Regions from separate parts of the Homo sapiens genome. Here all the other regions are linked to region 2. Evidence: fine-mapped expression QTL. A gene starts in region 2. Each other region holds a variant in brackets. All regions are shown on one strand. Distances are from middle to middle.

Region 1 (10,194 bases), 160 kb before region 2:
ACCTGAGCGAGGCCCGCCGAGACGAGCTCCTGGCCCAGCACGCGGCCGGCGCCCTGGGCCTGCCCGACCTCGTCGCCGTCCTCACCCGGGTCATCGAGGAGACGGAGGAGCGGCTCAGCAAGGTGTCCTTCCGCGGCCTGAGGCGCCAGGTGTCCGCCTCCGAGCTGCACACGTCCGGGATCCTGGGCCCCGAGACCCTGCGGGACCTGGCCCAGGGCACTAAGACGCTGCAGGAGGTGACGGAGATGGACTCGGTCAAGCGCTACCTGGAGGGCACCAGCTGCATCGCGGGCGTCCTGGTGCCCGCCAAGGACCAGCCCGGCCGCCAGGAGAAGATGAGCATCTACCAGGCCATGTGGAAGGGCGTGCTGCGGCCCGGCACGGCCCTGGTGCTGCTGGAGGCGCAGGCGGCCACCGGCTTCGTCATCGACCCCGTGCGCAACCTGAGGCTGTCGGTGGAGGAGGCCGTGGCCGCGGGCGTGGTGGGCGGCGAGATCCAGGAGAAGCTGCTGTCGGCCGAGCGCGCCGTCACCGGCTACACCGACCCCTACACCGGGCAGCAGATCTCCCTCTTCCAGGCCATGCAGAAGGACCTCATCGTCCGGGAGCACGGCATCCGCCTGCTGGAGGCCCAGATCGCCACGGGCGGCGTCATCGACCCCGTGCACAGCCACCGCGTGCCCGTGGACGTGGCCTACCGGCGCGGCTACTTCGACGAGGAGATGAACCGTGTCCTGGCCGACCCCAGCGACGACACCAAGGGCTTCTTCGACCCCAACACGCACGAGAACCTCACGTACGTGCAGCTGCTGCGCCGCTGCGTGCCCGACCCGGACACCGGGCTCTACATGCTGCAGCTGGCAGGCCGGGGCTCCGCCGTGCACCAGCTGAGCGAGGAGCTGCGCTGTGCCCTGCGCGACGCCCGCGTGACGCCAGGCTCGGGCGCCCTCCAGGGCCAGAGCGTCTCCGTCTGGGAGCTCCTCTTCTACCGCGAGGTGTCCGAGGACCGGCGCCAGGACCTGCTGAGCAGATACCGGGCGGGCACGCTGACCGTGGAGGAGCTGGGCGCCACCCTCACCTCGCTGCTGGCCCAGGCCCAGGCCCAGGCCCGGGCCGAGGCCGAGGCCGGGAGCCCGCGCCCAGACCCCCGGGAGGCCCTGCGTGCGGCCACCATGGAGGTCAAGGTGGGCCGCCTCCGGGGGCGCGCGGTGCCCGTGTGGGACGTGCTGGCGTCCGGCTACGTGAGCAGGGCCGCCCGGGAGGAGCTGCTGGCCGAGTTTGGCTCGGGGACCCTGGACTTGCCCGCGCTGACCCGCCGGCTGACCGCCATCATCGAGGAGGCCGAGGAGGCCCCCGGGGCCCGGCCGCAGCTCCAGGACGCCTGGCGCGGCCCGCGGGAGCCAGGGCCAGCCGGGCGAGGGGACGGCGACTCGGGGCGCTCCCAGCGAGAGGGCCAGGGGGAGGGCGAGACCCAGGAGGCCGCCGCCGCCACCGCCGCCGCCCGCCGCCAGGAGCAGACCCTGCGTGATGCCACCATGGAGGTGCAGCGCGGGCAGTTCCAGGGGCGGCCGGTCTCCGTGTGGGACGTCCTCTTCTCCTCGTACCTGAGCGAGGCCCGCCGAGACGAGCTCCTGGCCCAGCACGCGGCCGGCGCCCTGGGCCTGCCCGACCTCGTCGCCGTCCTCACCCGGGTCATCGAGGAGACGGAGGAGCGGCTCAGCAAGGTGTCCTTCCGCGGCCTGAGGCGCCAGGTGTCCGCCTCCGAGCTGCACACGTCCGGGATCCTGGGCCCCGAGACCCTGCGGGACCTGGCCCAGGGCACTAAGACGCTGCAGGAGGTGACGGAGATGGACTCGGTCAAGCGCTACCTGGAGGGCACCAGCTGCATCGCGGGCGTCCTGGTGCCCGCCAAGGACCAGCCCGGCCACCAGGAGAAGATGAGCATCTACCAGGCCATGTGGAAGGGCGTGCTGCGGCCCGGCACGGCCCTGGTGCTGCTGGAGGCGCAGGCGGCCACCGGCTTCGTCATCGACCCCGTGCGCAACCTGAGGCTGTCGGTGGAGGAGGCCGTGGCCGCGGGCGTGGTGGGCGGCGAGATCCAGGAGAAGCTGCTGTCGGCCGAGCGCGCCGTCACCGGCTACACCGACCCCTACACCGGGCAGCAGATCTCCCTCTTCCAGGCCATGCAGAAGGACCTCATCGTCCGGGAGCACGGCATCCGCCTGCTGGAGGCCCAGATCGCCACGGGCGGCGTCATCGACCCCGTGCACAGCCACCGCGTGCCCGTGGACGTGGCCTACCGGCGCGGCTACTTCGACGAGGAGATGAACCGTGTCCTGGCCCACCCCAGCGACGACACCAAGGGCTTCTTCGACCCCAACACGCACGAGAACCTCACGTACGTGCAGCTGCTGCGCCGCTGCGTGCCCGACCCGGACACCGGGCTCTACATGCTGCAGCTGGCAGGCCGGGGCTCCGCCGTGCACCAGCTGAGCGAGGAGCTGCGCTGTGCCCTGCGCGACGCCCGCGTGATGCCAGGCTCGGGCGCCCTCCAGGGCCAGAGCGTCTCCGTCTGGGAGCTCCTCTTCTACCGCGAGGTGTCCGAGGACCGGCGCCAGGACCTGCTGAGCAGATACCGGGCGGGCACGCTGACCGTGGAGGAGCTGGGCGCCACCCTCACCTCGCTGCTGGCCCAGGCCCAGGCCCAGGCCCGGGCCGAGGCCGAGGCCGAGGCCGGGAGCCCGCGCCCAGACCCCCGGGAGGCCCTGCGTGCGGCCACCATGGAGGTCAAGGTGGGCCGCCTCCGGGGGCGCGCGGTGCCCGTGTGGGACGTGCTGGCGTCCGGCTACGTGAGCGGGGCCGCCCGGGAGGAGCTGCTGGCCGAGTTTGGCTCGGGGACCCTGGACTTGCCCGCGCTGACCCGCCGGCTGACCGCCATCATCGAGGAGGCCGAGGAGGCCCCCGGGGCCCGGCCGCAGCTCCAGGACGCCTGGCGCGGCCCGCGGGAGCCAGGGCCAGCCGGGCGAGGGGACGGCGACTCGGGGCGCTCCCAGCGAGAGGGCCAGGGGGAGGGCGAGACCCAGGAGGCCGCCGCCGCCGCCCGCCGCCAGGAGCAGACCCTGCGTGATGCCACCATGGAGGTGCAGCGCGGGCAGTTCCAGGGGCGGCCGGTCTCCGTGTGGGACGTCCTCTTCTCCTCGTACCTGAGCGAGGCCCACCGAGACGAGCTCCTGGCCCAGCACGCGGCCGGCGCCCTGGGCCTGCCCGACCTCGTCGCCGTCCTCACCCGGGTCATCGAGGAGACGGAGGAGCGGCTCAGCAAGGTGTCCTTCCGCGGCCTGAGGCGCCAGGTGTCCGCCTCCGAGCTGCACACGTCCGGGATCCTGGGCCCCGAGACCCTGCGGGACCTGGCCCAGGGCACTAAGACGCTGCAGGAGGTGACGGAGATGGACTCGGTCAAGCGCTACCTGGAGGGCACCAGCTGCATCGCGGGCGTCCTGGTGCCCGCCAAGGACCAGCCCGGCCGCCAGGAGAAGATGAGCATCTACCAGGCCATGTGGAAGGGCGTGCTGCGGCCCGGCACGGCCCTGGTGCTGCTGGAGGCGCAGGCGGCCACCGGCTTCGTCATCGACCCCGTGCGCAACCTGAGGCTGTCGGTGGAGGAGGCCGTGGCCGCGGGCGTGGTGGGCGGCGAGATCCAGGAGAAGCTGCTGTCGGCCGAGCGCGCCGTCACCGGCTACACCGACCCCTACACCGGGCAGCAGATCTCCCTCTTCCAGGCCATGCAGAAGGACCTCATCGTCCGGGAGCACGGCATCCGCCTGCTGGAGGCCCAGATCGCCACGGGCGGCGTCATCGACCCCGTGCACAGCCACCGCGTGCCCGTGGACGTGGCCTACCGGCGCGGCTACTTCGACGAGGAGATGAACCGCGTCCTGGCCGACCCCAGCGACGACACCAAGGGCTTCTTCGACCCCAACACGCACGAGAACCTCACGTACCTGCAGCTTCTGCAGAGGGCCACCCTGGACCCTGAGACGGGGCTCCTATTTCTTTCTCTCTCTCTACAGTGACTGGGCTTCCTCCGTGCAGTTTTCTGCAACTCTGGAGAAGTGGAGGCATACTTGTGTGTCTGGGTTGTTTTTTTTTTTTTTTTTTTTTTTGTCATTCTTTAATTTTGTTGTTTTACCCATTCGTTATCTGTGGAAAACGTTTTAAGTTGTCATGTGACAGAAACTTTTCCTTTGTCCATCGAGGTGTTTCATAAGTTTTTTGGTGTGTTTTCTGGGTCGTCTATGTGTCATATGGTTTTACTTTTCTCTCCTTTTTCGTTTTCAGAACATTTTTCTGTCTGTTTTGGATTCACTGCTTCCATTTTACAGAATGTCACTCTTTAGACTCTCAGTCCATCATGCCATCGGGTACTCTTGTTGCAGTGTAATTTTTATTACATGCGGTTATTTCCCTAACGATGTGCTATTCACGTTCATCTTCAAACTCATTTTCCATCAGCCAGTGTCTACTATTTAGTGCCCTGGCTCTATTTCGGTCCTCCTCCC[C/T]GGGCTTTCCCTGGCTGCTGTGCTGGCCAAAAGCATGGGCTTTATTCTCTCCATTGGCTGCTGCTCCACCTTAGAGGTGTGACCTCACTAGCGTTGACTGAGCGAGTCTGTTGTGGAGAAGAACTTTTTGTAGTAATTTACTAGGAAAAATTCTGAACAAGTAAAATATGAAGGAAACTCTTGTTTTTGATTTCAGGTTTTTGAAGGTTCAATCACTAATCTTTATGCCCTTAATATACAGATAGTAGATTAAACAAGGGAAGCAAGCCGTCCAAAATCCAGGGTTCCTAGAGCCGTATCTCAGAATTTTATGCACACAGGTTGCAGTTAAGTCTTGCTCAAAGTTTTCTGGGAGAACCAAGAACTTTCATTGTTAATGGAAGTGTGGCAATTGGAGCAGGTGACAAAGAACAAGCCCTTTCGAGTCCCCCCTTCATTCACTCCACACATGGGTTGCCTTTGGCGTCTGGGCCACTTGGTCTCCAATGGTAGCAGAACACAGCAAGAATCCATGTGTTCTGCCTGGTGGCTGTGTGTGGTTGGCCTCCTGGGGGCCTGCGGGCTGGGCATGGACGCCGTGGAGGACACTCCCTGTGCTAGACTGGCTGGAGCGAGGGCAGATAGAGTGGACAGGGCTTGGACATTCTGGATGAAGAGCCAGTGGCCTCAGGGCAGAAATGACACCAGGGTAACTCATCAAAATGTGCCTCCCAGGCTCTAGAAAATCCCTGGTAGGGTCTGTGTGGCCTTTGCAGGAGCATCTGGCCCATCTGGAGGTGGGTTTGAGGGGACGGGGCCACAAGGAAATGGAAACAGTAGTGGGGTTCACATGTGCGAACATTCACAGATGCCAAAGTAGGCACTCGGCACAATCCGCTTAATAGCTCTCATCCAGACCACGTGCAACCAATGATGAAGGCTAGGATGGGGGATGCGGTCAGGGCACTAGCCTTGAAAAGGGGGACAGGGAGAACCTTCAAAAACAAGTGGAGGAAAGGCATCAGCAGGGTGCTTTCAACCACATTCTTCCTGTTGTTCTTGAGGAAGTCCTGTGTGTGTGCCCGATGCCTGTGTTGCGGAAGTTCTCACTGTGAACTTTACAGCAATGCTGAAGCAGGAATTAGCATGCCTGATTAGTGGTGATGGGACCCACGTCTTTCTATCCTTTTACCTTTACCTTGTCTTTGTCATTGTATTTGCAGTGAGCCTCCTTAGGCAGCATATTAATGGGTGGGGTTATCTTTATCCAATTTCACAATTTCTATGTTTGAATTGGCACATTTATACCGTTACATTTTATGTAATTATGTGTTTGGACTTATTCTTTGTTTCCTTTCCCTCCTCTGTTTTTTGTTCATTTCCCCTCCCTTAGCTACCTTCTTTTGGATTATTGGAATATTTTTTAGTGTTCCATTTAAATTTACTGGCTTTGGGCCATTGTTTTCTAATTTTTTATTGGTCGCCCTGGAGATTACAGTATACTTAGGATTTTTGACAGTCTTCTTAGAGTCTCCGCTCTGCCACTTCATGTGAGGTGTGGTCTCTTCCTCCACATCCCCCACCCCCCATTCTATCTTTGTCATGTTATCAGATTTACATGCATTGAAAATCCTACCAGGTAATGTGGCAATTTTGTTTTCAACAGTATAGATTTTTTTTTTCTTTTTGGAGATAGAGCCTTGCTCTGCCACCCAGGCTGGAGTGCAGTGGTGCAATCTTGGCTCATTGCAACCTCCGCCTCCCTCCCAGGTTCAAGCGATTTTCGTGCCTCAGCTTGCCAAGCAGCTGGGACTACAGGTGCGCACCACCATGCCCGGCTTTTTTGTGTTTTAGTCTCTACTCAGTGGTGTTTCATCATGTTTCCCAGGCTGGTCTCAAACTCCTGAGCTCAGGCAATCTGCCCACCTTGGCCTCCCAAAGTGCTGGGATTATAGGCGTGAGCCACCGCACCCAGCCTCAGCAGTAATAGATACATAGATATAGATATAGATAGATATGTAGATGTATAGATATATAGATAAATAGATATATAGATATAGATATATAGATATAGATATATAGATATAGATATATAGATATAGATATATAGATATACAGATGTATTTTTTTGAGACGGAGTCTCGCTCTGTCACCCAGGCTGGAGTGCAGTGGCACGATCTCAGCTCACTGCAAGCTCAGCTTCCTGGGTTCACGCCATTCTCCTGCCTCAGCCTCCCGAGTAGCTGGGACTACAGGCACCTGCCACCATGCCCGGCTAATTTTTTGTATTTTTAGTAGACACGGGGTTTCACCATGTTAGCCAGGATGGTCTCGATCTCCTGACCTCGTGATCCGCCCGCCTCAGCCTCCCAAAGTGCTAGGGTTACAGGCGTGAGCTACCAGATATTTTTAATGATTTAAAAAGTGAAAACAGCATATTATGGTTCTCTAAATATATACCATTTCCATTGCTCTTTCTGCATTCCTGAAGTTCCAGGTTCCCTCTGGTATCATTCCCTTCAGGCTAAATACCTTTCTTTAGCATTTTCTTTTAAAGTTGGCAGGTGAAGCACTTTGGGAGGCCAAGGCGGGCAGATCACTTGAGGTCAGGAGTTCAAGACCAGTATGGCCAACATGGTAAGACCCTGTCTCTACTAAAAATACAAAAATTAGCTGGGCGTGATGTTGCTTATAATCACGGGAGGATGAGGTGGGAGAATCACTCGAACCCAAGAAGTGGAGGTTGCAGTGAGCCAAGATCACACCATTGCACTCCAGCCTGAGCAACAGAGTGAGTGTCCACCTTGGCTCGTGGGTGGGAACTCATGAGCGCCCACTCCAAGCTGTGTCCTCTCAAAAAAAGTAAATAAAGTCTGCTGGTGAGGAATTTTACACATATAAATACATAAAATATTTGATTTGAGTTTATCCCATCTGGAGTTGGCCAAACTTTTTGATTTTCATAAGTTTATATCTTTCACTAAATTAGAGAACTTTTCTGCCATTATTTCTTCAAAATAAATGTTTTATGTACTAATATCTTTCCATTCCCCTTCTGGAACTTCAAATACAAAAGTGATAGATGTTTTGATATTGTTTCACAGCTCTCTGAAGCTTTGTTCATTTTTTTAAAAAATCTTTTCTCCTGTTTTTCAGATTAGATAATTTCTATTGATCTCTTTGTAAGTTTACTGACTCCTTCCTCTGTAATCCCCCTTTTGCTATTGAGACACTCAGTAAGCCTTTTTTTTTTTTTTACTTTGAGACAGAGTCTCACTCTGTTGCCCAGGTTGGAGTGCAGTGGGGCGTGATCTCAGCTCACTGCGGAGTCCGCCTCCTGGGTTCAAGTGATTCTCATGCCTCAGCCTCCTGAATAGCTGGGACTACAGCTGTGTGCCACCATGCCTGGCTAATTTTTGTACTTTTAGTAGAGACAGGGTTTCTCCATGTTGCCCAGGCTGGTCTCAAACGCCTAGACTCAAGCGATCTGCCCGCCTCGGCCTGCCAAAGTGCTGGGGTTACAGGCATGAGCCACTGTGCCTGGCCAGCTTTTTTACTTCAGGTGATTTTTTACTTCAGGTAATATGTTTTTCACTTCTACCATTTCCACCTGCTGAGAACGTCTGTCTTTTCACTCATTCTTGGGGTGTCCACTCTTGCCGCGGGGAGCATCGGGCTGGAATTGCTGCTGTGAAATCTTTTCCTGGTCCCTCCAGCATCTGAGTCCTGGGGTTCTGCCAGCAACTGTCTGTCTTTTCCCCTGAGACCGGATCCAATTTCCAGTCCTTGGCATGTTGGGTAATTTGGGGTTGTATCCTGGATGTTTTAAATAATCAGATGCGAGGCTCTGAGCCCTGCGAGAACGCGCTTGAGAATGTTGGCATTTTCACTTTGGCGGGCACTCATCCCGGCTGGGTCAGGCCACAAGCCGTATCCCAGCCGCTGTGTGCAGTGGATCCGTGTTGGCTCAATTCTCAAGGCTGTTGCTGTGCGGCCTGTTCCCCACACGTGCTGCTCAGCTCAGGCAAGCACCGAGCTTGTGTTGTTTCATGCTCAGCGTGGAGGCCCCTCCTCCAGGTCGCTGCTCTGTGGGGTTCCCATACACTCAGGCTCCTAGGAGGAGTCCATTTAGAAAGCCAGGGTTTTTCTCAGAGTCTTAGTTCCTTGTGCTGTCATCCATTTCACACGACTTGGGCCCTGCTCGGGGCAACACAGCAAGAGAAAAGACAGGGAAAATAAGAGAGGGACCTTGCACACACACGCTCTGGACCACAGAGCCCTGTGCCCAGCTCCTCTGTCAATACAGGTGGAATCTCGTGCAGGATCGCAGGGGTCTGTGATGCCACCAAAGAGCAGGCCGGGACAGGGTTAGGAGAGAAAGGAGAGGGAAGTGGGGGTTTCTCCTACGCACTCTTATTTGCAGAGGGAAAGGCGGGTTTGTATTGGGGTTGTCGGTCTTTGCACCCACGGCACAGTTGTGAGACACCCCCATCCTCAGATCAAAGCCGCACATACAGCTGGGGAAAAACAAAACAAAACAAAACAAAAACAGTAAACCTCCATGCCAGTTGTTGGTAAGTTTTGAGTTTCCTCCCCAGCCAGCTGCTACTGTTAGCGTTTCACAGTCCTCCAGGAGTCGCTTTTTATATTCTGTCCAAAGGGAGAGAGGAGCTGTAGTGGCTGTGCTCCATCTCTGCCAGCCCAGAAGTTTCCAGAAGTGCTCTTCTGATTTTACAGGTGAAGAACCGGAGTCCTGGGGGTGTAACAAGCCCAGGTCCTCAAGGCAAGGGTGGGAACTCACGAGCGCCCAACTCCAAGCTGTGTCCTCGCCCCGCAAGCTTGTGCTGGTCACTGCTGCCCTGTGCCCCCCGGATAGAAACACTGCTGGAGGAGAAGCCTTTCTCAGAGCCCTGGGGAAGGGGATGGTCAGGCCACCTACACTCCTGGCCCTGCTCCACTGGCTGCACTGGAGTGGCATCTGGATGGACAGCAGCCGGCTGGAGACTGGGAGGAGGCCTGGGTGCAGGAGGCTGGGGCGCTGGGCAGCATGCGCCGCGGGGCAGCAGGACGCAGGGGCCTCCCAGCGGGACTCGCACGTGGCACTCTCTGGGGCAGGTGGTGACGGGAGGCAGACACACTCCAGGGGAGTCCCTCAGTCACCATGCTCCAGGTACTTGCGCCTCACGTTTAGAACCAGGGTAGATTTGGAGACTCCTGGGATCTTTTGACAAAATTTCTCTCCAATCTCTAAGTACAAAGGATGCTCCTACAAAGGGCCAGATGGCAAGTCCTGGGATGGAACCCCTGCCCTTGGTGCCACCACTGCTCTTTCATAACTGTGGGCTCTTCCGAAAGTGACTTCATGGCTCAGTGCCTCAGTTTCCCTTTTTGTAAAATGGTCATCATGGCTGGGCGCGGTGGCTCAGGCCTGTAATCCCAGCACTTTGGGGGGCCGAGGCGGGTGGATCATGAGGTCAGGAGTTCGAGACCAACCTGACCAACATGGTGAATCCCTGTCTCTACTAAAAATACAAAAATTAGCTGAGTGTGGTAGGTGCCTGTAATCCCAGCTACTCAGGAGGCTGAGGCAGGAGAATCACTTGAACCCGGTAGGCGGAGCTTGCAGTGAGCTGAGATCCCGCCACTGCACTCCAGA
Region 2 (10,194 bases):
CCAACCAGAAGACACAGGCGAACGACTTGAACACCAAAGACCCAACAACCAACCAGAAGACACAGGCGAACGACTTGAACACCAAAGACCCAACAACCAACCAGAAGACACAGGCGAACGACTTGAACACCAAAGACCCAACAACCAACCAGAAGACACAGGAAACGACTCGAACACCAAAGAAGTACAAATGCCGATGCGTGTCTGAAGACAGCCATGCTGCCCAGGAAACGGGGAGGGGCAAGTCAAGCCAGTGCCAGGATGAGGAAGACCCAGAGTAAGGGGCTGTGGAGGGCACCTGTGTCATTGCAGAGCCTGGGAGTGTGGAACGCTCCTGATTTTGTTGGCTGGCTGCTGCTATTAAATCTAAAACAGCCCTGCTCTTTGACTCAGCAGATCGACCTCTAGGAATCCATTGTGTACCTTTGTTGTGGGTTGCAGAGTCCCCTGAAAAATTTACGTTCAAGCCCTAACCCCCAGTACCTCAGAACATGACTGTATTTGGAGATGAGGTTGTTGCAGATGTCATTAGCTGGGGTCATGCGGGTAGGCCCTAATCCAATGTAACTGGTGTCCTTATGAGAAGCTGGTCACATGAAGACAGAGACACAGGGAGAACGCGTGTGCCAACAGAGGCAGAGATTGGAGTGATTTTCTACATGCCAAGAACTGCCAGGAACTGCTGGCAACACTCAAAACTGGAAGAAGCAAGGGAGGATCCTTCCCCTACAGGTTTCAGAGGGAGCACAGCCCTGCTGATGCCTGGATTGTGGACATCAGGCCCCCAGAACTGAGAGAATTCATTTCTGTTGTCTGAAGCCACCTGGTCTGGGGTGTCCTGTTACAGCAGCTGCAGGAACCTGGCAAGGCCCAGGTGCACACAGACGCAAGAGCGGGGATACAGGCACGTGTGCACACAGATGTAAGAGCAAAGACATTCACTGCGGCGGAATTCACAGCACCAAAACGCTGGGATTGCAGGCTGTGTCCTTCCACAGGACACATTCATGGGACAGCATGCGGTTGCTGGAAAGAGCGCACACAGACGGAATGAAGAAGCACATGCGGGGCGCACAGGACGACTCCACACGATGAGGAGCACACACACGCAGGTTTGTGCCTACACAGGTGTTGGACAAGTATTTGTTGTGTCAACCTAAAAAGAAACTCAAGAGACAAGCTCTCCAAATAAGCGAGTTGATTTGAGAATTGCAGAGAATTGCAATTCGGGGTATTTGGCAGGCTATAGGTGTATCCAGGGGAGTTGGGGAAAAGGGGAATCTTAAAAACAAAAAGGGCCAGGCGCAGTGGCTCACGCCTGTAATCCTAGCACTTTGGGAGGCCGAGGCGGGTGGATCACCTGAGGTCAGGAGTTCAAGACCAGCCTGGCCAACATGGAGAAACCCAGTCACTACTAAAAATACAAAAATTAGCTGGGTGTGGTGGCTTGCGCCCGTAATCCCAGGTACTTGGGAGGCTGGGGCAAGAGAATCGCTTGAACTCAGGAGGCGGAAGTTGCAGTGAGCCGAGATTGCACCACTGCACTCCAGCCTGGGAGACAGAGCGAGACTCCATCTCAAAAACAACAACAACAAAAACAAGAACAAAAAAGAAGCCCACATAAGCTGTTTTCAAAGCCAAGGGTCTTTTACAGGAGTCTGTTACAGGAGCTGGAATTAGTGCGTGGGCTGAGACAGTCACTGCTGGGCAAGCGTCCGTCTGGGGTAGGCAACCCTGAGGGCGCCCTGTGGGTCCTGGAACCGTCTCCGTGCAGGAGTGTCTTGGGCTGCGTCCTGTCACAGGCCTCTGTATCTGAGGACTTCAGGGCTACCCCGACTCCATGTTGGTAGCGGCAGCTTTCACAGTGGACACACTCCACCATCAGGAAAGCTCATTCCACAGGAGTAGGGGCAGTAAGGGGGCTTTACCCTTTGTGCTGTATTTCCTGGAGAGCAGAAGGCCTGTGTGAATTGTAACTCGGAATAAACTTCACTAAAATAACGTGCACTTAGCTCTCTTTTGTAGACAAAAGTTGCCTGATGTATTGGCCAAGGGAACCCCAACTGCATTCCACCCCTTCTGGCAAGAGAACATCTCTCTTCACATCAGACCAATCAGAACCCCGGGGATCCACGGCGAGGGGATTTGGCTGTGTATGGACAGGACAGGGCAGTACTCGAGCAAGGAAGAGGACGTGAGCCTGGGTGTTCTGGGCCCCAAGTGGAAGGTCTGATCCGCTGTGCTGTGGGGCCAGACACCCAGGGCCAACCCCGGGCCACTCAGCAGGGGGTTTGCTGTGGGGAGCTTGTGCAGAGAGAGGCGAGTTCCATGCAGGCGTGGCAGGGCTTGTGTGGGGGTCTGCAGCTGGATGGTCCTTGAGAGAGGAGCCACGGGGCCAGGCGTTAGCACCCCTCCATCTACTAGTTCCTGGATGTGGCCCCAGGAAGGGGCATAACCTTGGAACAGACATCTGCGTCAGCGAAGGTCAAAGCAAAGGTGGCGGCCCCTGAGGGCTGTGGCCAGCAACACTCAGCACCTACCAGGAAGGGCAGCCGAAGGGGGATTGGAGAAGTGCATTTTCAGCCTCCCGAGTAGCTGGGACAACAGGCGTCCACCACCACCCCTGGCTAACTTTTGTATTTTTAGTAGAGATGGGGTTTTACCATGTTTGCTAGGCTGGTCTCAAGCTCCTGACCTCAAGTGATCCGCTTGCCTCAGCCTCCCAAAGTGCTGGGATTACAGGCGTGAGCCACCGCGCCCAGCCTAGGGCTGGATTTTATCTATGGGATTAAAGGGAGAGATGGAATCAGGAAGAGAGTAGGACTAGGTCTGCATCTGCACGCTGAACAGATTTGGCCAGGAGGACCTGCCCTGAAGAACAAGGCAGAAGCCATCAGTTTCGTTGAGTTGCCACAAAAGACTTGGTGTATTTCCCTTCAGACATCTCTCCTCTCCCAACCTGTAAGTCATCTGAGAGGGTCACTCCCTGTCTCTCGCCACGTGTCCAGGTGACAGACCTCAGGCCCCTTTAGGAAATCCTTAGATGCTCAGGCATGCGGCTCCAGGGCCGCGGCCAGCCGAGTTGCTGAGTAAACCCCAAGGAAGGTGATGGGCGATGGAGACCGTGTCCTACTGCTCGGCGGCCGCCGTACAGCCCACCACAGCTCCCCGGCTGCTGGATCCACCCGACATCTGTTCAGCAGTGTCCAAATACTGAAATTTTAACTAGTCACTCACTTTCCTTATTCCTTTTCAAATAAATTGTTTCCGCCCTTTCCCCTCTTTGCATGGTGGTTTTGTCATCTCCCACATCCGGAGTTGCAAAAAGGCCCTGAGGTGGCTGGGCACAGTGGCTCATCCCTGTAATTCCAGCACTTTGGGAGGCCGAGACGGGTGGATCACGAGGTCAGGAGTTCAAGACCAGCCTGGCCAAGATGGTGAAACCCCGTCTCTACTGAAAACACAAAAATCAGCTGGGCGTGGTGGCGGGTGCCTGTAATCCCAGCTACTTGGGAGGCTGAGGCAGAGAATTGCTTGAACATGGACATGGTGGTCGTGGTCCCCGGTGGAGACACTGCAGCTGGAGGTGGGGTGAGTGGACTGAGCACCTTTGAAGTAGTGTGATCAGAAGACGAGGCTGGCCGACCCCTCTGTGGAAAGGACACAGCCCTCCAGCTGTGGCAATGGGTGTGCAGGCCACAGGCTCACCTGTCCTAAGGCGGGGCTGCTCTGCCTTTGTTTGGATTGTGTGTGGTATCATGGCTCTCCTGCAGTCAGGCTGCCACACTTCCTAAGTGTGCACGTGTGGGGAGGGGAGGAGTGGGGAGTGTGAGTGATTCTGGGTGCTCAGGTGCATGACAGCTGGTCTCCCCTCATGGAGTTACCACTGTAACCGGACTCCAGGCTTCCACCATCGGCCCTCGAATTTTACATAGGATGGTTGGCCCCGGGAAAAGGAGCCTCTGAAGTTTTAAAATCCAATATGGCTCCAACATTAAGCTCACACTGGGGACCAGCTCAAAACCCACCCATTTCACATTCCCCAAAACGTTTCGTTTGGTGGGCCTGTGATTTAGCTCCCAAGAGGTCACAGATACAAACACAACGAAGCGAGCTATTAGGGCTGGACATGCACTCAGTGACGCAGCTGTCCCTCCACCCTGGCCCGGGTCAGGTTCTGCCAACTCCACACGCACACTCTTCGTTTGAAGGGTCCCAATGGGTTTGAGGACCTGTAAGACTGGTACGCACGGCGGACCCCATGAACACCCAGAACAACAGTGAGTAGAGTTTATGATACGTTGTAACTAGAATGACCCCAAATATCTTTATTTACTTGGCATTGTACTTCCCAAAGAAGAATATTGCAGCCACTGGGCCTCCCTTCAGAGTGCAGAGAGGCAGCTCCAGGAGCTGAGCCTGCTGGGATGCAACTCCTCCTCCTAGCACCATGGACTCCTTCATCTTTCAGTCAAGGCTGCCAGTGGCTACCACGTGGCCCTCCCATTCCTGGAGCTCTCAGCTGCATCCGCCACCTGCTCTCTCGACGGACTTTTTTTTTTTTGAGATGGAGTCTCACTCTGTCGCCCAGGCTGGAGTGCAGTGGCACGATCTTGGCTCACTACAACCTCCGCCTCCCAGGTTCAAGCAATTCTCCTGCCTCAGACTCCTGAGAAGCTGGGATTACAGGCGGCAGCTACCATGCCCTGCTAATCTTGGTGGACTTTACACTGGACACATGTGTGCTGAGCGCTAACACAAAGGCCAGGCAAGTGTCCCCTGGAGACAGAGGGGTGGAAGGCTAGGTCACAGGCATGGCTGTCAACGGACCCTGCTGTGCACCCATTCTGGCCGCGAAGTAGCTTCATGCATTCTCTGCCCAAGATAAATGCAGAGAAAACTCGGCTCTACAGGCTCACAGGGAGTGACGGCTGCTGGCCCCAGGAAGGAAGATGCTCCTTACGGGACACCTGCTGTGAGCCCCTTCTGTCACCCCACCCCCGCCTGGGTGGTGAGGAGGCCAACAGGGCAAGATGCAGAGCCTCCCGGCCCCTCACACCCCCATGGGCTCCTCACCACCATTCTCTCCCCAGGCCTTTTCTGTGGACCTGACCTTCTTCAGCGACCCAGGAGGCAGGAAGGGAAGCCTGAGTGTTAGAAGGAAAGACAACTAAGAGCAGCAGCCTGACCGCAGCTGAGCACGGTCGTGCTCCTCCCTGGGGAAGTGCCAAGGGAGGGACCCCCTGCTCTACCCGGAGCCCTGGAGCCCTGCTAAGCAGGGTGGAAAGCCTGCAGCCCGGGGGGTACCGCGACTGTGGCCCAACCATCCAGTGTGTGAGCCCTGGATGATGAGGCCACCAAGAGCAAGGCAGCCCGCTTGGACAACTGACCATCATCTGACGAGGCAGCGCATCACCCACGTCTCTGCTGTTCACATTTAATCCTGCACAAGAGCGTCACAAAGTGACAGCATTGTGAGGGACTAACGACCAGGCACAGGTGACCCTGGACGCGGCCAGTGGCTTCCTGCAGGGCGCTCAAAACCCAAGTCCTTATGATCCGCCGCATCTACTGCCGAGACACCAGCTGCTCCGTCCCCACCTGTGCTCAAGCACCTGAAGGCCCTTCCAACGGCGCCCGCTGGGCAGGGGACAAACCAGACACGAAACACACATGCGCTTTTACCAGCCTGGACTCTGTAAGAGAAAGGCACCCCCATATCCCCCCTGGGGAGATTTCCACTTATCCTGCAGGGCCCTCACTGCCTCACCGGGCTCTGCCAGGGCCTGCCCCGCAGGGGCAAGTGCTTTTCCTACACAGGGTCTGTGGGCCAGGACAGACCCAGAGGAGCTTCTGCTACGGGCTGAATGGTCACTCTGAAATTCCCATGTGGAAGCCCTAGGCCCGACGTGATGGTATGAGGAGGTCTCTGGGAGGTGATTTGGCTTCGATGGGGTGATAGGGGTCATGGGATCCGGGCCCTCACAAGGAAAAGGTGACACCAAAGCCCCTCCTGACATGAGGATGCCTCTGAACCAGGAGGCGCTCGCCGGAAACGGACCCTGTTGGCACCTCTACCTCGGACTTCCAGCCTGCAGAGCTGGAGAGAATAAACCTGTGTTGTCTGTGGGGCTGCCGGTGGTGTCCTGGTAAGGCAGCCCTGTGACTCCATGACCGACAGCTGCTCTCTACAATCTTCCGTGAGCACGAAGAAACTCATACTCATGCTGCAAATAAAAGATTTGGGGAACTTTTAAGCACACCAACCTCCCGGCTTCAACAGCTGTCAACATTCAGCCAATACTGTTGTGTCTTTCTCCTCTTTATTAGAATCGTAAAGTACATCCCAGGCGCCACGTCATTTCCCCACAAAGACGTCCAAATGCATCTGAGTGAGGATTCCTCCGTAACCCTGTGTCACCATCACCGCTAGCAGCCAATTCCGCACCCCCACCCGACTCACGGCCCACCCACCCGACTCACGGCCCACCCACGCAACTCACGGCCCACCACGCAACTCACGGCCACCCACCCGACTCACAGCCCACCCACCCGACTCACGGCCACCCACACGACTCAGTCCATCCACCCGACTCACGGCCCACCCACCCGACTCAGTCCATCCACCCGACTCACGGCCCACCCACCCGACTCAGTCCATCCACCCGACTCACGGCCCACCCACCCGACTCAGTCCATCCACCCGACTCACGGCCCACCCACCCGACTCAGTCCATCCACCCGACTCACGGCCCACCCACCCGACTCAGTCCATCCACCCGACTCACGGCCCACCCACCCGACTCAGTCCATCCACCCGACTCACGGCCCACCCACCCGACTCAGTCCATCCACCCGACTCACGGCCTACCCACCCGACTCACGGCCCGTGCCCACATTTCCATGATTGTCTCAAAAGTGACTTCGCACTCGGTTTGCTCCTACCAGGGTCACACACAGCCCCCTCGGCCTTTCTGCGTGCCCGTCTTCCCACAGAAACGTCGCCGTCTGGTGGCATCTCCAGCCGGATCTGGCTCAGGGCTTCCTCTCGGTGTGTTCAACCTTCTCCTCATCCCCCTATTTCTTGTAAACTCGTTTCTGATTCCAACATTACATATGCATCTGTTGGCTGGAATTTTTTTTTTGAGACGGAGTTTCACTCTTACTGCCCAGGCTGGAGTGCAATGGCGCAACCTTGGCTCACCACAACCTCCACCTCCCGGATTCAAACGATTCTCCTGCCTCAGCCTCCCGAGTAGCTGGGATTTCAGGCGTGAGCCACCACGCCTGGCCTGGCTGCAATTCTTAAAGAAAAACAGGCAAAAGCAAAAATAATTGGCTAACCTGAAACACGGCAGTGTCCCGACCCATTCCCACGGGGGTCTTCCCTTGGGAACACCACTGGCAGATTTTTATTTCTGGCTGGATAAGCAGACACCTTAAGTTTAAAACAAAGAGGTCACCTCTTCCCCCACGAAATGCGATGTGGTGGATATGGCCACCTCACTGCCCTGAGACCCAACTTGATCTCCCAACTCCAGGTGCATGACCCAGGCTCTGACCAACAGAGCTGGGTGGAGGCCGTTCCTGCAGCACTGGGGGTGGCCCTGACCTAACCACCACTCCTAATCCTTGAATGAGGTTCAGTATTACAAAGGCTCTTGTTTCTACGGCCCAGCGCAGAGGCTGCAGGAGGGTCTTTGCCTCTGTGCAATGCTCACAGCTGCCTCGCCCAAGACAGAGACAAGAAGGGAAGCCAGACCGGGCAGCCAGCATGGGGTGCAGAGCCAGGAAGGAAAGGCCCAGCAGACGGCGACTCGGGGCCAGGGTGGAGTCCCTGAGCCAGACGGCTGTGGGCACCAGGCAGGCTTCTCCGCCTCTGAGCCCGGCCTGGCACGTGGCTCCGGGGTCGCGCACACTCTCAGCACATCCCCAGGATGCCCGGCGCCGGGGCGCAGCCCCCGCCATCTCCAGAGCCCCCGCCATCTCCGGCGTACCCATGGCTCTGCTTCTCCCACCTGGCAGTTTTCCCAGTAAACTTCTCGGGGGACTGGGGAGCTCTGAGGACTAAGAAGGCTTCTCTGAATTCAGGTTGATTTTCCAGGCTGAAGAGCAACTTCTCACTGCAGCTCTCCCTCAGGACCCAGTACTCCCGCAGAGGCGCAGCACCCCACTCTTCGGGCGCCCCTACACCTCCCCGTGCCTGTGAGTCCTCTGATGCCGCGTGAAGAACCCCAGGTGACGGAAGCCTTTCCCACAGTGGCCGCACTCGTAGAACCTCTTCGTCAGGTGCAGCCTCCGGTGGATGCTGAAGCCCTTGGGCCACCGGAAGGACTTGCCGCACTCGGCACAGGTGTAGGGCTTCTCCCCGCTGTGGACCCTCTGGTGGTGGCTGAGGTTCTCCTTGGTCCGGAAGGCTTTGCCGCAGTCCGCGCAGTAGAACGGCCGCTCCCCGGTGTGCACCAGCTGGTGTCTGAGAAGGTTGGACTTCTGCTTGAAGGCTTTCCCACAGTCGCCACACGAGTAGGGCCTGTGCTCGGTGTGGACCTTGCGGTGCTGAGCCAGGCGGTCCTTCAGGCTGAACGCCTGCCCGCAGGCCTCGCAGCAGAAGGGCTTCTCGCGCGTGTGGTTCTTCTGGTGGCGCTGCAGGTTTGAAGCCCACCGGAAGGTCTGGCCGCACTCGGGGCACTCGAAGGCCTTGGTTCCCGTGTGCACCGTCTGGTGAGCGAGCAGCCGGCTGTGGCAGCTGAGCGCCTTCCCGCACGTGCCGCAGATGAATGACAGCTCTACTGCGCGCTGCTTCCGGCGCTCTCTGCGGCCCGGCCGCCGCCCACAACGCTGCGTGAGCACCTGACACGGGAAAGCCGTGGGCTTGGCGTCTGTCCTTTCTGGAGCAGCTCTGGGAAGCTGCCCGTCATCCGTGTCCAGCCTGAAGCCCTTCCTAAAGCTGCTTCCTTCCCTGGCTCTTTCTCGCCGCACGTGGGTTTTCTTGTGAGCCCAAGCTGGATGATCACAAGGTCTCTTGGGGTCTGCAGACTTCCTTGCCCCTGTGGAAGGAACAGACACCCTTACACAGAGCCAGTGGCCCACAGCCAGGCAGTGCCTCCAGCAAAGCCCAGAGGAGGCCGGGCGCGGTGGCTCACGCCTGTAATCCCAGCACTTTGGGAGGCCGAGGCGGGTGGATCATGAGGTCAGGAGATCGAGACCATCCTGGCTAACAAGGTGAAACCCCGTCTCTACTAAAAAAAAAAAAATACAAAAAATTAGCCGGGCGCAGTGGCGGGCGCCTGTGGTCCCAGCTACTCGGGAGGCTGAGGCAGGAGAATGGCGTGAACCCGGGAAGCGGAGCTTGCAGTGAGCCGAGATTGCGCCACTGCAGTCCGCAGTCCAGCCTGGGCGACAGAGCGAGACTCCGTCTCAAAAAAAAAAAAAAAGCCCAGAGGACCCTCCTGCTGTGTGCGTGGACTGGCTTCCATTGACTCAGCTCATTCCACATGGTTACGAGTGATCAGGAAAACTCGTTCAAAGAAACACAGATGAGCCACAGGTATCAACAGCGGAAGCCAAGATGAGCTCAGATGCTTCCCCAGCCCCGGTGGTACGCAGGCCACCCGGCACTGCTGACGTGAGGGAGAGCCGACACATGCCTGCCAACCAACAGAAGCAACTGGGCCAAGAGAATGTCCTTTCACCCTGTCCACGCCAGCAGGCCCCACTCATGCGGGTGGAGGTGGTGCTAGGATGTCGTCTAGAAGACGGGTAGCTCCACCTGATTCTCAACCACTCAGCCTCAGAGCCATGGCTCCCTTCAGCCGGGGGCTCCACACACCCGGGGATGCGACACCTCCCCAGCCGGGGGCTCCACACACCCGGGGATGCGACACCTCCCCAGCCGGGGGCTCCACACACCCGGGGATGCGACACCTCCCCAGCCGGGGGCTCCACACACCCGGGGATGCGACACCTCCCCAGCCGGGGGCTCCACACACCCGGGGATCCGACACCTCCCCAGCCGGGGGCTCCACACACCCGGGGATGCGACACCTCCCCAGCCGGGGGCTCCACACACCCGGGGATCCGACACCTCCCCAGCCGGGGGCTCCACACACCCGGGGATCCGACACCTCCCCAGCCGGGGGCTCCACACACCCGGGGATGCAACACCTCCCCAGCCGGGGGCTCCACACACCCGGG
Region 3 (10,194 bases), 31 kb after region 2:
ATAATCCCAGCAGTTCAGGAGGCCGAGGTGGGTGGATCACCTGAGGTCAGGAGTTCAAGACCACCCTGGCCAACATGGTGAAATCCTGTCTCTACTAAAAATACAAAAATTCGTCGGGCATGGTGGCGTGCACCTGTAATCACAGCTACTCAGGAGGCTGAGGCAGGAGAATCGCTTCAACCCAGGAGGCAGAGGTTGCAGTGAGCCGAGATCTCACCACTGCACTCCAGCCTGAGTGACAAGAGTGAAACTCTGTCTCAAAAAAAAAAAAACCCTTAACTAATGGGTACAAAAAAATTAGAAAGAATAAGACCTAGTATTTGATAGCACAACAGGGTGACTATATTCAATAATAATTTAATTGTACATTTTAAAGTAACAGAGTATAATCGGATTGTTTGTAACGCAAAGGATAAATGCTTGAGGGGATGGATACCCCACTATCCATGATGTGACTATTACACTTTGCACGCCTGTATCAAAACGTATACCCCATGGGAGGCTGAGGCAGGTGGATCACTTGAGGCCCGGAGTTCGAGACCAGCCTGGCCAACATGATGAAACCCCGTCTGTACTAAAAATGCAAAAATTAGCCAAGTGTGGCGGTGCTCGTCTGTAGTCCCAGCTACTCGGGGGCTGAGGCAGGAGAATCACTTGAACCTGAGAGGCGGAGCTTGCAGTGGACTGAAATCACGCCACTGCACTCCGGCCTGGGTGACAGAGTGAGACTCTGTCTCAAAAAAAAAAAAAAAAGAAACAAAAACATGTACCCCATAAATACGTACGCCTACTATGTGCCCACAAAAATTCAAAACAACGCAAAACAAAACCTCTTAACACCAAATCCTAAAACTCTTAGTCTTCATATTTGATTTCTTTTTTTGAGGCAAGGGCTTGCTCTGTTGCCCAGGCTGGGGTGCAGCAGCCCGACACAGCTCACTGCAGCCTAGACTTCCTGTTGTCCAGGCTGGTATCAAACTCCTAGACTCAAGCAATCATCCCACCTCAGCCTTCTGAAGTGCTGGGATTATAGATGTGAACCACTCCAACCCCATATTTGATTTTTGTACAGCAACAGTTCCCAGATATAAAAACAGGCTAACCATGATGGCTCACAGCTTTAATACTAGTGCTTTAGGAGACTGAGGCAGGAGGATCATTTGAAGCCAGGAGTTAGTTTGACACTTGCCTGGTCAACATAGTGAGACTTCATTTCTACAAGAAATTTTTTTAAAATTAGCCAGGTGTGGCCAGGCGCAGTGGCTCACTCCTGTAATCCCAGCGCTTTGGGAGGCTGAGGCAGGTGGATCACCTGAGGACAGGAGTTCAAGACCAGCCTGGCCAATATGGTGAAACCCTGTCTCTACTAAAAATAAAAAATTAGCTGGGCGTGGTGGCAGGCGCCTGTAGTCCCAGCTACTCGGGAAACTGAGACAGGAGAATCTCTTGAACACGGGAGGCAGAGGTTGCAGTAAGCAAAGATTGTACCACTGCATTCCAGCCTGGGAGGTTGCAGTCAGCTGAGATCACACCACTGCACTCCAGCCTTGGCAACAGAGTGAGACTCCATCTAAAAAAAAAAAAACACAAACAAACGAAAAAAAGAAAAACAATTAGCCAGGTATAGCATTCCTGTAGTCCTAGCTCTTCAGGAGTGATATGGTTTGGGTCTGTGTCCCCACCCAAATCCCATGTCAACTGTCATCCTCAATGCTGGAGGTGGGGTCTGGTGGGAGGTGATTGGATCATGTGGGCGGATTTCCCACTTGGTGCCCTTCTGGTGATAGTGAGTTCTCTTGAGATCTGGTCTGTTAAAAGTATGTGGCACCCCAGCCTCGGCATCGTCTGGGAAGTGAGGGGCACCTCTGCCCGGGTACCCCCACTGTCTGGGAAGTGAGGAGCGTCTCTGCCCGGGTCCCCCGACTGTCTAGGAAGTGAGGAGCGCCTTTGCCCGGCTGCTGTGCAACCCTCCAAATGTGAAGTGATAGCCTTGTGTGTAATCTTTCTACCTGCCCCAAGTTTGCATTTTCAACATTAAAGTTTACTTTTTAACTAAAAGTTTTAAATTGGAGAATTAAAAAAAAAAAAGTATGTGGCACCTCCCCACTCCTCTCCTCCTCCTGCTCTGGCCATGGAAAACGTGCCCACTTCCTGGGATTACAGGTGTGAGCCACCACACCTGGCAGGAAGTTTTGAAGTAGACTCGACATAATTGGATTTACATTTGTTAGATACAGTGAGTTCCTCTTCAAAGGTTCCACTTTACAGCAAACAACCTTCCAGCCACTCCCAATCTATAACCCAATCTGTAACCCACATCTGTTCCCAATCTGCAGCCCAATCTGTAAAACCCACATCTGTTCCCAATCTGCAGCCCAACCTGTAAAACCCACATCTGTTCCCAATCTGCAGCCCAACCTGTAAAACCCACATCTGTTCCCAATCTGCAGCCCAACCTGTAAAACCCACATCTGTTCCTTATTTGGCCACTGTAGCCGCCCCTGATCCATTTGAAGTAGCCAATGGGGATCGGCTTAGATGGTGTGGTGCGACTCCAGCCAATGGGGACTGGACACAGTAGCAGGGCGTGACTGCTTTAGGGATAAACACCCCTGCCCTGCTTTGTTCGGTGTGCTCTCCCAGTGGCCAGAAGAGAGAGCGGCACTCTTCTGCAGAAGTAAATTTGCCTTGCTGAGAAGGCAAATTTGTGAGCACTCAAAAAAAAGCCAGTGGAAGTTTTTTTTTGTTTGTATTTTGAGATGGAGTTTTGTTCTTGTTGCCCAGGCTGGAGTGCAGTAACACAGTCTTGGCCCACTGCAACCTCTGCCTCCCAGGTTCAAGCGATTCTCCTGCCTCAGCCTCCTGAGTAGCTGGGATTACAGGTGTCTACCACCAGCCCTGGCTAATTTTTTGTGTGTGTTTTTAGTATTTGAGTGCTCATTTTCTTTTTTTTTTTTTCTTTCTTTTCTTTTTTTTTTTTTTCAGACAGAGTCTTGCTCTGTTGCCCAGGCTGGAGTGCAGTGGTGCAATCTCAGGTCACTGCAAGCTCCGCCTCCTGGGTTCACGCCATTCTCCTGCCTCAGCCTCCCGAGTAACTGGGACTACAGGTGCCCGCCATCTTGCCCGGCTAATTTTTTGTATTTTTTTTAGTAGAGACGGGGTCTCACCATATTTGCCAGGATGCTCTAGATCTCCTGACCTCGTGATCTGCCCACCTTGGTCTCCCAAAGTGCTGGGATTACAGGTGTGAGCCACCGCGCCCAGCCTTGAGTGCTCATTTTCTTTGCGACTCCAAGCTCTTATTTCCAACACATTTGAGAGGAAGCTGTCCTTGTGCAGTCTCAGCTGTGTGATTGTGTGGGCCAGCTGTGCAACATGTCAAGTTACTTTACCTTTCTGCATCAGGGCGCAATCAATCAGCAGACAGAAACTGCACAGTCATTTGGGCAAGGAACGTTTAATATAAAGGATTATTTACTATAATGGAATTATCTGTACAGGGCTAAAGATAATGCAAAAGAATACTCTGGGCTGACAGAGAGTTCCCAAGGAAGGAGAAAATGTGAAAGATGGCCTCCTCCCCAAGGCTGGGGCTCAAATCTTGGAAAAGGTGTGGTTGCAGAGATGCTGTTTGGTGCAGTATGGATGATGGAGAGGTTCTCTGGTTTTCCCGTAGCCAGAGCTGGTCCACAGTCAATGGGCAATCACTCCTGCAGGTGTAGAGGGGTTGAAGGTGGCAGGTAGGGAGCCTGGCCAGGACTGGCAAGCAGGAAACACCTCTCTGGGGCAGGCTGAGGCTGGATGCTGACCAGTGGAGCATCTGCAAGACTCACGGGGATCCACCCATGGCATTGCAAGTGAAGTTGGCTGGGGGTGAGCAACACTGAGTGTGCTGGCAGCCACATGGCAGGAACAAGAAGAAAACAGAAGAAAGTGCAGAACAGGAAGAGAAGCACTTTCCTCCTGCAGGGTCCCTCCAGTGCCCTCTACTTACAAAGCTTAACGTCATACCTGCTTTAAAGGAGAAACAATTTAGGGCCCAGCTCCATTTTCACCAAGCAGGCGATGAAGTATGTATTTGAAGCTGAAAGACAGTAAATGGAGAATTGGCAGTTTCAAGCCTCAGTTGGGCCCTTGGTTTTCTCAGTACTCACTCTGTGCCTCCCAACAACTAATCTTCTTTCTGATTCTCCAAGTAGCTCTTTCAACACTCCGTAAAAATCCTATCCACCATCTTTCTTCCCACTTGGAAGAAAACCTTGCCTTTTTTTTTTTTTTGACAGGGTCTCACTCTGTCATTCAGGCTGGAGAGCAGTGGTGCGATCTTGGCTCACTGCAACCTCATCCTCCTGGGCTCAAGAAATCCTCCCACCTCAGCTGCTTGAGTAGCTGAGACAACAGGTGCATGCCGCCACGTCTGGCTAATTTTTGTATTTTTTGTGGACACGAGATTTTGCCATGTTGGCCAGGCTGGTGTCAAACTCCTGGGCATCTGCCTGCCTCAGCCTTCCAAAGTGCCAGGATTATAGACCTGAGCCACCAAGCCTGGATCTTGTCTCTTATTTTACAGGGAAAATACATAATAATGTGTGTTTGATTACAATTGAATAATGCAGGCTTTGGGAAATCCACCTGTTATGGGTTGATTTGTTTCCCCCCAAATTGAAATGCTGAACCTAATGCCCGGTACCTGAGAATGTGATTGGATTTGGAGATAGGGCCTCTAAAGAGGTAGTAAAGTTAAAATGGGGCCTTTGGGTGGGCCCTAACCTGATCTGACTAGGGTCCTTCTAAGAGGAGGAAATTTGGATGCACAGAGAGACATGGGATGTGTGTTTGCACAGAGGGAGGGAGGGCCTTGCGGGGACACAGCATGGGATGTGTGTGCACATGGAGGGAGGTAGGGCCTCGAGGGGACACAGCATGGGATGTATGTGCACATGGAGGAAGGAGGGAGGGCCACGCATGGACACAG[C/T]GTGGGATGTACATGCACACGGAGGAGGGAGGGCCACGTAGGGACACAGGATGGGATATGTGTGCACATGGAGGGAAGGAAGGCCTCACGGGGACACAGGATGGGATGTGTGTGCACACGGAGGGAGGGAGGCCACGCATGGACACAGCATGGGATGTGTGTGCACACAGAGGAGGGAGGGGCACGCAGGGACACAGGATGGGATGTGTGTGCACACGGAGGGAGGGAGGCCACGCATGGACACAGCATGGGATGTGTGTGCACACAGAGGAGGGAGGCCACGCGGGGACACAGGATGGGATGTGTGTGCACACAGAGGAGGGAGGGGCACGCAGGGATACAGCATGGGATGTGTGTGCACACGGAGGAGGGAGGGGCACGCAGGGACACAGGATGGGATGTGTGTGCACACAGAGGAGGGAGGGGCACGCAGGGACACAGGATGGGATGTGTGTGCACACGGAGAGAGGGAGGCCACGCATGGACACAGCATGGGATGTGTGTGCACACAGAGGAGGGAGGGGCACGCAGGGACACAGGATGGGATGTGTGTGCACACGGAGGGAGGGAGGCCACGCAGGGATACAGCATGGGATGTGTGTGCACACGGAGGAGGGAGGGAGGCCACACAAGGACACAGCAAGAAGGCGGCCATCGGCAAGCCAAGGAGAGGAGCCTCCGGCAAAACCCAACCTGGGACACTTTAGTCTCTTCTGGCTTCCGGAACTGTGAGAGAATAATTAATTTCTGTTGTTAAGTAACCTACTCTGCAGTATTTTTAATGGCACCCTGGTGTAACTAACATACTACTGGTGTTGGAGTATTTTATAACTTGTGGAGGCCATGGAAGCATCCCCCGCGCTGTCAGGGAGGCAGAATGTCCTGTGAAAGGAACAAAATCACTTTGGACACACCTGGCAACTGGGCAAAACCTCAACTGGTTCCTTGATCAACAGAGTGAGTCTTGTAGTGGGAAAATCAAAGTGGAAGCTCCTGCAACTCTACCCTCTGTGGAGAATGGCAGGCGTTAAGGCCACCTGTGAAGACGTAAAAGATCCGCACTCGCCTTGCTCCCATCCCCCTCGTCCCCAGGCTCCTCGTCCCAGTGCCCCTAGTCCCTGTGCCCCTCGTCCCCACCCACCTTCTTCCTGTCCCTTGTCCCCACCCACCTCATCCCCATCCCCCTTGTTTCTGTCCCCCTCATCCCCGCCCACCTTATCCCCATCCCTCTCATCCCCATCCCCCTTGTCCTCATCCTTCTTGTCCCCGTCCCCTTATCCACCTTGTTCCTGTCCCCTTAATTCACATCCCCCTTTACCCTGCCCTCCTTGTCCCCATCCCCCTTATCCCTGTCCCTCTTGTCCCCACCCGCCTTGTTCCATCCCCCTCATCCCCATTCCCCTTGTCCCCATACACTCCCTTGTCCCTGTCCCTCTTGTTCTTGTCCCCCTTGTCCCCATCTGCCTGTCCCCACCCGCCTTACAATCTGGAAACCCAACCCCTGCGGAAGCTGCATGACCGTGGTGGACAGCAGTGGACTACCACAGGCTTAAACAGTAGTAGCTGAGGCACGCTTGTGGCCATCCACATGGTCTTTCCAGAAGAGACTGATGTGGCCACGTGCATGTGGTTTTTGGCTACTGGTCTGATAAACACATCATTTCCGAAACCTGTTTGGAAGGGGAATCGGAGCAGTTCCTGCCCACGCGGGGCCAACAGCGGCACACAGGTACGGTCGCTCCAGAACCGAGTGGGGTGCCTCGTCCCAACATGGCCCAAAGGCCTGACCCACTGGATGGTCCACGAGCAAAGGTTGGCCCATTCAGTGGATGCCTTAATGGGCACTGGACTCATGCAGAGATAGCAGGTGCGCTGATGGCCTCAGAAAAACACGGGCGCTGTGGAGGGCAGGAGGCAGACTCCGTACACTTCAGAGACCTGCCCCATGAGCAATGTTCTCAGGGTGCGGTGGCCTGTAGGGTGCTGGGGCAGGCCCGATGCCTCTTTGGGCTTGAAGGCAATATGTTCTGCCCTTGGCGGGGGAGAGGGAAAGCCGTCGGCTCTGAGTGGGGTCTGGAGCAAGGGAAGGGGCTGAGGCAGGCCCAGGCTGGGTGACAGGCAGTCCTGCCACGTGGGTCATGTGGCCGTGAAGTTCCCACAGGCTTCACATGTGTGGCAAAGACACGAGTGGCGCCCATGACGAGCCTCAGTGCAGGATGTGCAGCCCAGGCCCAAGGCCACCGGCGCAGGGCCCCGTCATGTTCAGGGGACTCCACCAGCTGGTAGGTGGTGCGGGCAAGTGTTCGGGCCCTGACCGTGGAGGCCACGGTGTTTATGAGACTGGCGCTGCCCATCGTGACTGGGTGCTGTCGGAGCTACCAGTCGCACATCCAAGGGGCCGTCAGGAGTTTACTGGGAGATGGAAGTGGAGTCCAAGATTGGGCTTGGGCAGGTCCAGAAGGCACAAGGATGGCCCAGGTCCCCGTGCCACCCTCTATTCTCCACTGGGCCTCTCCCCAAGCCCATGCCTGTGGCTCCATGGGGAGGTCCCCGAGCCCTGCTGCAGGAGACGGGTAGTCTCGTACCTGGCTTACGGGGGGGCCCGGTGTGCTCTGTGGCCCTCCAGTCAGAGCAGGGCTCCTGCAGCAAGGCAGTCGGTGAAATGCAGCTCCAGCCCACCTCACAGTGGCCCAGTGGGTCCCTGAACCCAAAAGGCAACACTAGAGCTCCACAGCCTAGAAGCCGCACACCGCAGCGCGCCGTCTTCACCCTTCCTTGGCTATGAGCTCTTCCAGGCAGCACAAAGCACAGGGAAATGCCCCAGGGTGACGATGTGACTGCTTGCAGCCTGCTTTCAAAAAGAACGCCAGGAACACAGGCAGGAAAGGTGGGCAGGAGAGAGAATGAGACTGATAGCCACCAGGTAGCTGACTCCAAATTAATAGGATTGTCAACTCCTTACCAATTTATATTTACCGGTTACATAAAAAATGGTACAGTGACCTCCCCTTCCAGCCATGATTAACAAGTATTGGACTTGCCCTCCTGCCCTAAACTAGAAAGCTGGACAAAATCCATGCAACAGCTGCTGTTAGATGTTGGAGGGTGCAGTGCTGTGACCTGCCCAGGAGGATGGAGATGGGGGGGGCACCTCCCATGATGCCAGCTCTCTGCCTGGTGGCATTTTCTAGAATACAGCATATGAAGGGGAAACACAGGCATGGTATCAACTCACTAAGTTGAGGAGGCAGAGGTTGGACTCTGGGGAGGTACAGAAGGCTCGCATTTATGGGGTCCAGTACGAGAAAGAAACTGGGACCCATGAAGAGGAAGTCCCCAGTGCTGCCATGAGTGTTTGGATGAACGTTAAGCTGCACACACCATGGGGCCAGGCCACAAGCCACGGGGAGCTGACAGCAGACAATCCCCAAATAGCTTGCAGGCCTGGGAGGTGCTCAAAGTGTGATGAGCCAGAGTGGTGGGCCTTGCTGCCCAGTGGCGGCACTCAGTGAGAACTGCGAAGGGTCCAGCCCTACCAGGAGCACGGCTAACCTGGAGTAAAGGCCGCTGTAGACCAGCCTCAGCCAAGCTCAGAAACAAGCCTCAAAGGACTAAGCTGATCTACAGTCATTAAGCTGCCTGCAAAAAAATTCAATAATTTTGAAAGGAAGACAAATTTCAGACCCTCAACAATGTAACATTCACAATATCTATCAAAAAAATTACTAAACACACAGAGGTGAAAATGTCACCCATAGCCAAGAGAAACATCCATCAGCTGGAGAACATCCAGGCCGGGTGTGGTGGCTCATGCCTGTCATCCCAGCACTTCGGGAGGCTGGGTGTGCAGATCACTTGAGGTCAGGAATTTGAGGCCAGCCTGGTCAACATGACAAAACCCCATCTCTACTAAAAATACAAAAATTAGCCGGGCGTGGTGGCGTGCATTTGTAGTCCCAGCTACTCGGGAGGCTGAGGCAGGAGAATCGCTTGAACCTGAGAGGCAGAGGTTGCAGTGAGCTGAGATCGCGCCACTGCACTCCAGCCTGGGTGACAGAGTGAGACTCCATCTCAAACAAAACAAAACAAAACCCTGAAGAACATCCAGACATGATAAAGATGGTGGAATTAGCAGATAAGAACTTTTAAAAAGCCAAATGAGTAATTTCACAGGTTTAAAGGAAAACGTGGTAATGAGGAAAGGAATGAAAGGTATAAAGAAGAATCCAGTAGAACTTCTACAGCTGAAAAACCTACATCTGAAATGAAAAGTTCAATGGTGGAATGAACATGAGACCACAAAGGCTTCTGAACCTAAGGTGACCTTTTAGAAATAAAAACAAAACAAAATAAACAAACAAAAAAGACCTCAAAGGCAAAAGAAAAGGTCAATGGACTTGAAGACAAACCCACAGAACATGCCCACATTGCAGCACAGCGAGCGAAGGGGCAGGAAGGCACCAGCAAACAGGGCCACAGTGCCCCGAAGGCGAGCGAAGGGGCAGGAAGGCACCAGCAAACAGGGCCACAGTGCCCCGAAGGCGAGCGAAGGGGCAGGAAGGCACCAGCAAACAGGGCCACAGTGCCCCGAAGGCAAGTGAAGAAGGAGCAGGAAGGCACCAGCAAACAGGGCCACAGTGCCCCGAAGGCAAGCGAAGAGGCAGGAAGGCACCAGCAAACAGGGCCACAGTGCCCCGAAGGCGAGCGAAGGGGCAGGAAGGCACCAGCAAACAGGGCCACAGTGCCCCGAAGGCAAGTGAAGAAGGAGCAGGAAGGCACCAGCAAACAGGGCCACAGTGCCCCGAAGGCGAGCGAAGGGGCAGGAAGGCACCAGCAAACAGGGCCACAGTGCCCCGAAGGCGAGCGAAGGGGCAGGAAGGCACCAGCAAACAGGGCCACAGTGCCCCGAAGGCAAGTGAAGAAGGAGCAGGAAGGCACCAGCAAACAGGGCCACAGTGCCCCGAAGGCAAGCGAAGAGGCAGGAAGGCACCAGCAAACAGGGCCACAGTGCCCCGAAGGCAAGCGAAGAGGCAGGAAGGCACCAGCAAACAGGGCCACAGTGCCCCGAAGGCGAGCGAAGGGGCAGGAAGGCACCAGCAAACAGGGCCACAGTGCCCCGAAGGCGAGCGAAGGGGCAGGAAGGCACCAGCAAACAGGGCCACAGTGCCCCGAAGGCGAGCGAAGGGGCAGGAAGGCACCAGCAAACAGGGCCACAGTGC

The links.
Region 1: its variant is fine-mapped to the expression of LINC02878 in liver (GTEx, PIP 0.98).
Region 3: its variant is fine-mapped to the expression of LINC02878 in sun-exposed skin (GTEx, PIP above 0.99).

Annotation. Positions count from the first base shown.
Region 1 is chr8:143,851,866-143,862,059 of GRCh38, reverse strand. EPPK1 (epiplakin 1) reads left to right here. Exons shown (of 2, transcript NM_031308.4): 2 at 1-4,736. The coding sequence ends at 4,073. Among named protein-coding and RNA genes, the nearest start is that of NRBP2, 16 kb to the right of the region's middle. RefSeq lists an enhancer at 3,814-4,316. The variant C/T (reference allele first, on the strand shown) is at 4,560.
Region 2 is chr8:143,692,524-143,702,717 of GRCh38, reverse strand. It overlaps LINC02878 (long intergenic non-protein coding RNA 2878), which reads right to left and starts at 5,603. Exons shown (of 2, transcript NR_015445.1): 1 at 5,077-5,603; 2 at 4,305-4,779. It overlaps ZNF707 (zinc finger protein 707), which reads right to left. Exons shown (of 6, transcript NM_001100598.2): 6 at 7,333-9,047. The coding sequence ends at 8,188. RefSeq lists an enhancer at 2,424-2,924.
Region 3 is chr8:143,661,735-143,671,928 of GRCh38, reverse strand. It overlaps LOC105375799 (a long non-coding RNA gene), which reads right to left and starts at 8,811. Exons shown (of 4, transcript XR_928737.3): 1 at 7,561-8,811; 2 at 5,890-6,012; 3 at 4,012-4,084; 4 at 3,442-3,710. RefSeq lists enhancers at 1,882-2,382, 2,383-2,883. The variant C/T (reference allele first, on the strand shown) is at 4,976.